Regions from separate parts of the Homo sapiens genome. Here region 2 is linked to region 1. Evidence: fine-mapped expression QTL. A gene starts in region 1. The other region holds a variant in brackets. All regions are shown on one strand. Distances are from middle to middle. Region 1 holds the start of NMI (N-myc and STAT interactor). Region 2 has its middle 24 kb from the start of NMI.

Evidence for each region.
Region 2: its variant is fine-mapped to the expression of NMI in tibial artery (GTEx, PIP 0.99).

Annotation. Positions count from the first base shown.
Region 1 is chr2:151,287,019-151,291,416 of GRCh38, reverse strand. NMI (N-myc and STAT interactor) reads left to right here and starts at 1,749. Exons shown (of 8, transcript NM_004688.3): 1 at 1,749-1,824. RefSeq lists enhancers at 1,161-1,580, 1,641-1,720, 2,111-2,160, 2,181-2,230, 3,031-3,200 and a silencer at 1,781-1,980.
Region 2 is chr2:151,311,530-151,315,927 of GRCh38, reverse strand. No RefSeq gene overlaps it. Among named protein-coding and RNA genes, the nearest start is that of NMI, 24 kb to the right of the region's middle. The variant G/A (reference allele first, on the strand shown) is at 2,684.

The sequences.
Region 1 (4,398 bases):
TTTCCTCAACTGCAAAATGGGGATAATACCTTCCTGCCTGCTTCAGACAGGTGAAAAGAAATGGGAATAATACCTATATCTAATATTGTTGTTGGCAAAACAAAAAGGTTTATAAAATGTCCAGGAGTTCTTAGTAGATGTTAGCAATTACAATTATTAATAGTATGTCCAGGAGCCAACTCTTCATCTTCAGATCTCTAACACTTTGCAGAATACCAGATTTGAAGCTGAGTTAAATTCAGACTGTTAGTACATGTCTCAGCTTTAGAATGTAGGTGTCCAAAAAGACTTCCCCTCCACCTGTATCATTTGCCTTTTAAACAGAATCTGAGTCAATATATTAAGTTAGTCCTGTTCTGGCCATGGTCCTGTCCTTTAGTATCTTCTTGTAAAAAATAAAAATAAGAAGAAATGAGGTTCAACTAAATAACCTCGAGAGTTCATATTCCCTCTAAAATTTCAAGGTAAAACTAAAGTAATTCTTTCTCAAGTTGCAGCAGAAGGAGTTTTTGTATTTTCTAACTGGTCTGATAAGCACAAAGAAGTCGTTTTTTTTACTTAGAAATGCCATTTTACAGGAGGCTGAGGTGGTGGGATCACTTGGGCCAGAGCTCAAGATCAGCCTGGGAAACAGTTAGATACCTGCCCCCAGCACCCAAATTAAAAGTACAAAAAATCTGGGTGCGGTCGTGAATTCCTGTAATCCCAGCTACTTGGGAGTGGAGGTGGAAGGACTGCTTGAGCTCAGGAGTTGGAGACTGGGCAACAGAGCAAGACTCATCTCAAAAAAAAAAAAAAAAAAGAGAAATGTCACCACTTTAAACTGGTTCCCATCAACCTTTTTGATACAAAGAAATTTTACTTTTGTTAAACTATTTTAGACCACTGTATCAGTTATTATATGTGACTAGGTAGCATGATAACCTATAATTTATGCCTTGAAATAATTTTGACTCATTTTCTTCCCACATCTGTATTTATGAGCCGGGGCAGCTGTGGGGTGGTTCTTTGTGTGGGATTAAGAGACACTGCAGTTCTTGAAATAAACCAGATGTTTGAATTTTCAAAGGAAAAGTTCACACCTAGTGAAGTATTTATTTACAAGCTCCACAACAAAACAAGAGATTATAAGAAAACTTTCAAGGGACATGGGTCACAGAAACCAACAGGAACACCACAGCTTTCCCAACTTCATGGCCCCGGGGGATGTTACAAAAGACACAGAAACGCCGATCTTGTGCTGACTGTAAACATTTGTCAACTAGTGTTACAATGACTAAGAAATTACAAAAGAGTTACAATCTGATGAAGAGCGATTCCTGCTTTGACTTTATTTGGTTTCTATCCACTTTTCCAACATACCTTATAAAATACATGCAAAAAACTGGTTTTAGAAAGCGTTCCCTAAAATTAGTGTGTACGGAAACTTCAGGTATACTTCTGCTTTCCTCCGCAAAACCACCCCTTTTTAAAAATCGAAAGTGAAATTAGTTTTTTTTTCTGTTAGTGACTAATCATTGGAGACAACCATGTTTAGTATTTGAGCATTGGTTAAATGCTAAAGAAAAATCGCCGTTAAAGCAGTTTTCTTTTTCACTGTCTTTTTCTTTTCGCGGGGAACCCAGCTGTTCCTGCGAGGGCCACCTCCTCAGGAAGACCCCGCAGCTCTCCCGCGGCGCTTCTGCAGGAGGCAGCGACAGTTTCGAGAACCCGGGCCTTCCCCTCCCAGTGCCTCCCGGGGTTCCGGCGTTTCAGGCGCTGCTGTTTTCCGGGAAGGGCAGGCGCGCTGGGCCTTGGGGAGCTGCGCTCGGCGGGCGGACGCGGGTGAGTGGGGAGTCCCTTCCCCGGCTGCCACTCCCGCCGCTGGCAGTCCCGGGCTGGAGAGCCGGGGGTGGAAAGGGAGGTGGGAGCCCTCAGCGCCGACGGAAGTGGGACAGCGCCGGAGTTGAGACCCTGCTCCCCGGGAGCTGCCCGCAGCCGAGTCGCGGAGGCCACGCCGCCTTCGAGGGGGCGCACCTGCTCCTGGGCCCGCTGTGCAGTCTCTGGGCCGTCAGGGCTTCGAGCCTTGTCACTTGTTTGCTTTGCTTCATTGAGGAAATTGAAACATAAAGTTATTTGTGTTTCCTCGCTGTTTTCTCTCTTTTTTTTTTTTTTTTTTTTTTTTGAGACGGAGTCTCGCTCTGTCGCTCAGGCTGGAGTGCAGTGGCGCGATCTCGGCTCACTGCAAGCTCCGCCTCCCGGGTTCACGCCATTCTCCAGCCTCAGCCTCCCGAGTAGAGTAGCTGGGACTACAGGCGCCCGCCACCACGCCTGGCTAATTTTTTTTTTTGTATTTTTAGTAGAGACGGGGTTTCACCGTGTTAACCAGGATGGATACGATCTCCTGACCTCGTGATCCGCACGCCTCGGCCTCCCAAAGTGCTGGGATTACAGGCGTGAGCCACCGCGCCCGGCCCTCGCTGTTTTCTCCGAGTGTCTCTGGAGATAGTCCTTAGGAAAACGGATTTCTTAAGAAAACGATTCTTGGTAGGGGCAGTGTTGTGCAGTCATGGCTGGCGTGTCAGAATAGGCAAGGTTTTTCTTGAAGGAGACATCCGAAGGAGAATACTGTGTTTCCAGTCTGTACAACAGGCAGACGTTCTATTGCCTTTCTTTTTGCTGCCACGCATGCATATAGGAAGATTCGATTCTACACGGCCTGGCACCGCAGTTATATGATTGTATTACGGAAATACGGTGATGTTGATTTGTATCAGTTTTTTTAATTCGCTGCCATAACAAATTACATGGCTTTAGTGGCTTAAACACATAGGAACGCGCGCGCGCGCGCACACACACACACACACACACACTCACATACACAATTTACTATCTTAGGATTCTGTAGCAGTCCTACTGAGGTCTCACTGGGTTAAAATCAAAGTGTTGGCAGGGTTGCCTTCCTTTCTGGAAGCTCTTGGGGTGAATCCTCTTTCCATCTTCCGGAGGCCACCTACCTTATTTGGCTCAGCAGCCCTTCCTCCATCTTCAGGGCCAGCAACATTGCGCCTCTGAAAGTTCTTCCGGGGTCACATTTCACTCTTGACTCTTCTTCTGTCTTCCGCTTTCACTTTTAAGTAGCCTCATGATTACACTGGGCTCCCACAGATAATCCAGGATGCTCTCCATATTTAAAAGCAAGCTGATTAGCAACCTTAATTCAATCTGCAGCCTTAATTCTCCTTTGCAATATAAACTAACATAATCACAGATTCTTGGGATTAAGATGTGGACATCTTTGAGGGAGCCATTGTTTTGCCTACTACATGATTGCATAAAAGGAATGACCATACATCCCACTCATGCATAGAGCAAAAGTATCCAGATGCAAAAGATGCCAAAAGGGTTCTGGTGGTGTTAGATAGTAGACCATTTATGCTGAGAGCCTTTATTACAGGCTCTTGGAATATTGGCATTGTCACAATAATAAAAATAAAAAGCAATTAAATAACATTGCAGTTTCTGTCTTCTGAAATGTAATAAGAGGACTTCATATACATGTGATGTCCTGAGTACAACAAATACTTAAGTCAAGATACCACATAATTCTCTAAATGGAGTGTTTTCAGTGTGTAAGCTTATACTGAGAAAGTGCTCTGAATGTCTGCAGGGAGGAGTAGACATGGTCCCAGCCCTCAACATGTTTACTGATGTGTCACGGAAAATGACATAGGTACACACGTAATTAAAGCGCCGCAAAGGAGATAAAGGAGGGGGAGTAACATCCTTTGGGGGAATCAGAAAAGGCTTCGGGAGCTTGGGGAAAATTTGGAATGGACCTTGAAGAACAGTAAGATTTCATTAGATGGAGATTAAGTTTGGGAGAGGAGGAAGGATGTGACAGTTTGAGGGACAGAGGAAAGAAAAGGAACTATCCAAGTGTTCAGTGTGGTTAGGGAACTGGGTTGAGGAATTGACTAAATAGGACGGGAAAGTGAGTTGGAGTTAGAATGTATCAGACCATGGCTGACCATTAAGAAGATTTTGCAGTTGTTGATACAATAGCGATATATATGTATATATGTATGCGTGTGTGTGTGTGTGTGTGTATGTGTGTGAGAGAGAGAGAGAGAGATGTGGTTTAAATATATATATACTTATATATATATATCGTCTCAAGGCATCTCAAACTTACAGAAAAGTTGCAAGTACAGTAAAACAACTTTTCCTTTTCCTAAATTATTTAAGAATAAATTTCCAATCTGGTGACCTATCATCTTTCATTATATACTTGAGTATATATTTCCTACAAAAAAGATGTGCTCCGACATAACCACAATACAGTCATCAAAATCAGGAATGTGGAGTGCTACGTTACTACAATTTAATAATCAGATCCAATGTGAATTTCACCAGTTG
Region 2 (4,398 bases), 25 kb before region 1:
TAGCAGGGTACATAGGGAAGGACCATCAGGTCGGGGAAGGGCTAGAAGTGTCTGAGTTCAGACTGTCTTTGGGCAGGTCTTGGCTGCGGCTGCTTTGGGGGATGGGAGTGTGGTTCCCAAGTCAATGGAGTAATGTTCCCAGGAGGATTATGTCTGCCTCTGCTGTGTCATGCCGGTTGTCAGGGAAGTGGGAGAAAGCTGGCAGTCACAGGCCTCACCCAGCTCCCATGCAACCCAAAAGGCTGGTCTCACTCCCACCTTTCCCCCGACTCCCAACAGCACCAAGTCTGTTTCCAGCAGTGGGCGAGCAGGGCTGAGAACTTGCTGCAGGCTACCAGTCTCCCAGCTGCAAAAGCAAGCAGGGCTTTCGTGTCTGCCTGCTTTTGGAGTCTGCACACCAGAATCACTCCCTCCCCGGAGTTCTGGCCAGGAGATTTTGCATTCTGTTGGAATTGTTACACAGTTCAGCTGGAGGTTTCCTTTTCCCTGTGGTCTTTTCCCAGTTCCTCTGGCAGCCCTCCCCAAGGACTCCTGTGAGGCAAGGCAGAAATGGCTTCCCCGGAGACCCAGAGAGCCCACAGGGCTTATCCCGCTGCTTCCTCTACCCCTGTATTTCACTCAGCTCTCTAAATTGACTCAGCTGCAGTTAATGTCAGAATCTCCTCCTGTGATCTAGACCTTCAGGTTCCCCTGTGAGGGTTGTCTCACGCAAGTCTGTGTGAAGAGACCACCAAACAGGCTTTGTGTGAGCAACAAGGCTGTTTATTTCACCGGGGTGCAGGTGGGCTGAGTCCGAAGGAGAGTCAGCAAGGGTGGTGGGATTATCATTAGTTCTTATAGGTTTTGGGATAGGCGGTGGAGTTAAGAGCAATGTTTTGGGAGCAGGGGGTGGATCTCACAAAGTACATTCTCAAGGGTGGGGAGAATTACAAAGAAATTTCTTAAGAGTGGGGGAGATTATAAAGAACATTGATCAGTTAGGGTGGGGCAGAAACAAATCACAATGGTGGAATGTCATCAGTTAAGCTATTTTCACTTCTGTGGAACTTCAGTTGCTTCAGGACATCTGGATGTATATATGCAGGTTACTGGGGATATGATGGCTTAGCTTGGGCTCAGAGGCCTGACATTCCTGTCTTCTTATATTAATAAGAAAAATAAAACAAAATAGTGGTAAAGTGTTAGGGCGGTGAAAATTTTTGGGGGTGGTATGGAGAGATAATGGGTGATGTTTCTCAGGGCTGCTTCGAGCGGGATTGGGGTGGCGTGGGAACTTACAGGGGGAGATATTCAACTGAAGAAGGATTTTGGGGTAAGGAGTGATATTGTGGGGTTGTTAGAAGGAGCATTGTTATTCTCTTATTTGGAAGACACAAGGTCCGAATAAAAGAAGGAGAAAAACAGGTATGAAAGGACTAAGAATTGGGAGTACCCAGGACAACCAATTACAGAGTGTCAAAGGGGGTTCGGCATAATTATTTGCTTGGTTGGCATGTTTTTGGGCTCTATCCTTGAGTTTTTTTATGTTGTCATAGACCAGGCCAGATTGATTTAGGTAAAAACAACCTTCTTCATTTAAAAATATACAGAGTCCCCCCTACCTTTTTTTTTTTTTTTTTTTTTTTTTAGCAGTGAGTAAGTTAGGGCCTCCTCGAATTTGGAGGAAAGAGAAATGCAAAGCCAGCAATTGTTTGTTAAAGAAGGATTAGAAAGGGCTAGGAGAGAGTGACTGAGATTGATAGTGTGGTGGAGATAGCTGGGGAGAGGTAGAGGGTGGCATAAGAATGGGAACGAGAATAAGAGTAAGTATAAAAGTAAAGAATAGGACTTCATCAGGGTGAAAGTATTGGAGGGTACTTTATCACTGAAGATCTTCTATCCACTTCTAGATAGACTTAAGGGTGGCGATTTGAGGTAAAACCAGGAGCCACTAAATACCAAGAGCCTCAGAAACTGAGGTGGGAAGGCCAAACCGAGGAATTATGTCTGACAGAAGGGAGGAAATGACCATGGTGGCCTTCTCAGACCCTGTGAGAAAGGCCTCTACCCACCCAGTGAAAGTGTCTACCCATACCAAGAGGTATTTTAATTTCCTGACTCGAGGCATGTTGAGTAAAGTCAATTTGCCAGTCCTGGGTGGGGGCAAATCCCCAAGCTTGATGTGTAGGGAAGAGAGGGGGCCTGAACAATCCCTGAGTAGTAGAATAGCAGATGGAACACTGAGAAGTGATTTCCTTGAGGATAGATTTCCACGATGGAAAGGAAATGAGAGGTTCTAAGAGGCGGACCAGCGGCTTGTAACCTACATGGAAGAGGTTATGAAATGACAGAATAGAATGGGCCTGTGAGGCTGGAAGGAGATATTTTCCTTGGTACAAGAACCATTTGCTTTGTGTGGGAAGAGATTGATAGGTGGAAGTTTCAGTTGGGGAGTAGGTGGGAGTGACTAGATGAGGAGAAAAACTGCCGTGAGGGATAGAAGTTGGAACGCTAGCTGCTTTTTTAGCTACCTTATGAGCATAAGCATTGTCCTGAGTGATGGGATCTGATGCCTTTTGATGGCCTTTGCAGTGAATAATTCTAGCTGTCTTTGGAAGTAAAGCAGCCTTGAGAAGAGTTTTTATTAAAGAGGCATTAATGATGGAGGACCCTTGTGTAGTGAGGAAAACTTTCAGCTCATAAA[G/A]CAGCATGGTGGTGCAGGATATGGGGTCAGCATAAATATTGATGAGTAGTCCCTTTACAAGAGTGAGGACCCGAATTAAGGCAATGAGTTTGACTTGCTGAGAGGTAGTGGAGGGGGGCAGAGCAGTAGCCTCAATGATAGATGTGGAAGATACTATAGCATAGCCTGCCTTTGCTGGTGAGTGGTGATTAGGCTTGATGGAACTGCCATCAATAAGCCAAGTGTGATCAGGGTAACGAACACGAAAGAAGGAAATAAGGAGAAATGGAGTGAATGTCAGGTGGATCAGAGAGATACAGTCATGGGGGTCAGGTGTGGTATCCAGAATAATGTGGAAGGCCAGATTGAAGTCCAGGCCAGGAACAATGGTAATTGTGGGAGACTCAACAAAGAGTGAGTATAGCTGAAGGAATTGGGGAGCAGAAAGTATATGTGTCAGGTGTGAGGAAGAAAATAGATTTTGAAAGTTATGAGAGCTGTAGAGAGTGAGTTGAGCACGGTTTGTGATTTGGAGGGCCTCCAAAAGTATTAAGGCAGTGGCAGCTGCCACACGCAGACATGAGGGCTAGGCTAAAACAGTAAGGTCAAGTTGTTTGGACAGAAAGCCTACAGGGAGCGGTCCTGGCTCTTGTGTAAGAACTCCGACCGCACAGCCCTGCACTTCAGCTGTGTGTAATGAAAACGGAGTGATGAGTTAGGGAGAGCCAGTGTGGGAGCAACTTTTAGGGCTGTTTTTTAAGGAATGGAAAGGGGAGTGGGGAAAGGATTTAGGATCTGTGTGGTCAACTAGGTTTGCTTTTGTGAGTTTATATAATGGTTCAGTCAGGATGGTAAAACTAGGTATCCAAACGCGGAAGTACCTAACCATGCCCAGGAAGGAGAGGAGTTGTTTTGTAGAAGGGGTTGGGGTTTGGGAGATTAGCCGGACACAATCAGCAGGGAGAGCACGTGTGTTTTCATGCAGAATTATGTTGAGATAGGTAATGGATGAGGAAGAAATTTGGGCTTGACTGAAGTAATGGGGGCTGTCCGTGAAGCCTTGCAGCAGTACAGCCCAGGTAATTTGCTGAGCCTGATGGGTGTCAGGGTCAGTCCAAGTGAAAGCAAAAAGAGGCTGGGATGAAGGGTGCAAAGGAATACTAAAGAAAGCATGTTTGAGATCCAGAACAGAATAATGGGTTATGGAGGGGTTGTGGAGGGAGGTATTGAGGATAGGAGAGTATATGGCTTTGGCACCATGGGGTGATAGGCAAGACAATTTGGTTGTTAAGGTGCAGATCCTGTACTAATCTGTAAGGCTTGTCCGGTTTTTGGACAGGTAAAATGGGGGAATTGTAAGGAGAGTTTATAGGCTTTAAAAGGCCATGCTGTAATAGGCAAGTGATAACAGGCTTTAATCCTTTTAAAGTGTGCTGTGGGATGGGATATTGGCATTGAGTGGGGTAAGGGTGATTAGGTTTTAATGGGACGGTAAGGGGTGCATCATCTGTCACCAAGGAGGGAGTAGAGGTATCCTGTACTTGTGGATTAAGGTGGGGAGATATAAGGAGAGGATGTGAAGGAGGCTTTGAATTGGGGCAAAAGATGGCAATTGAGGTGTGGCTGTAGCCCAGGAATAATCAGGGAAGCAGATAATTTGGTTAAAATGTCTCAGCCTAATAAGGGAACTGGGCAGGTGGGGATAACTAAAAGGAGTGTATAAAAGAATATTGTCC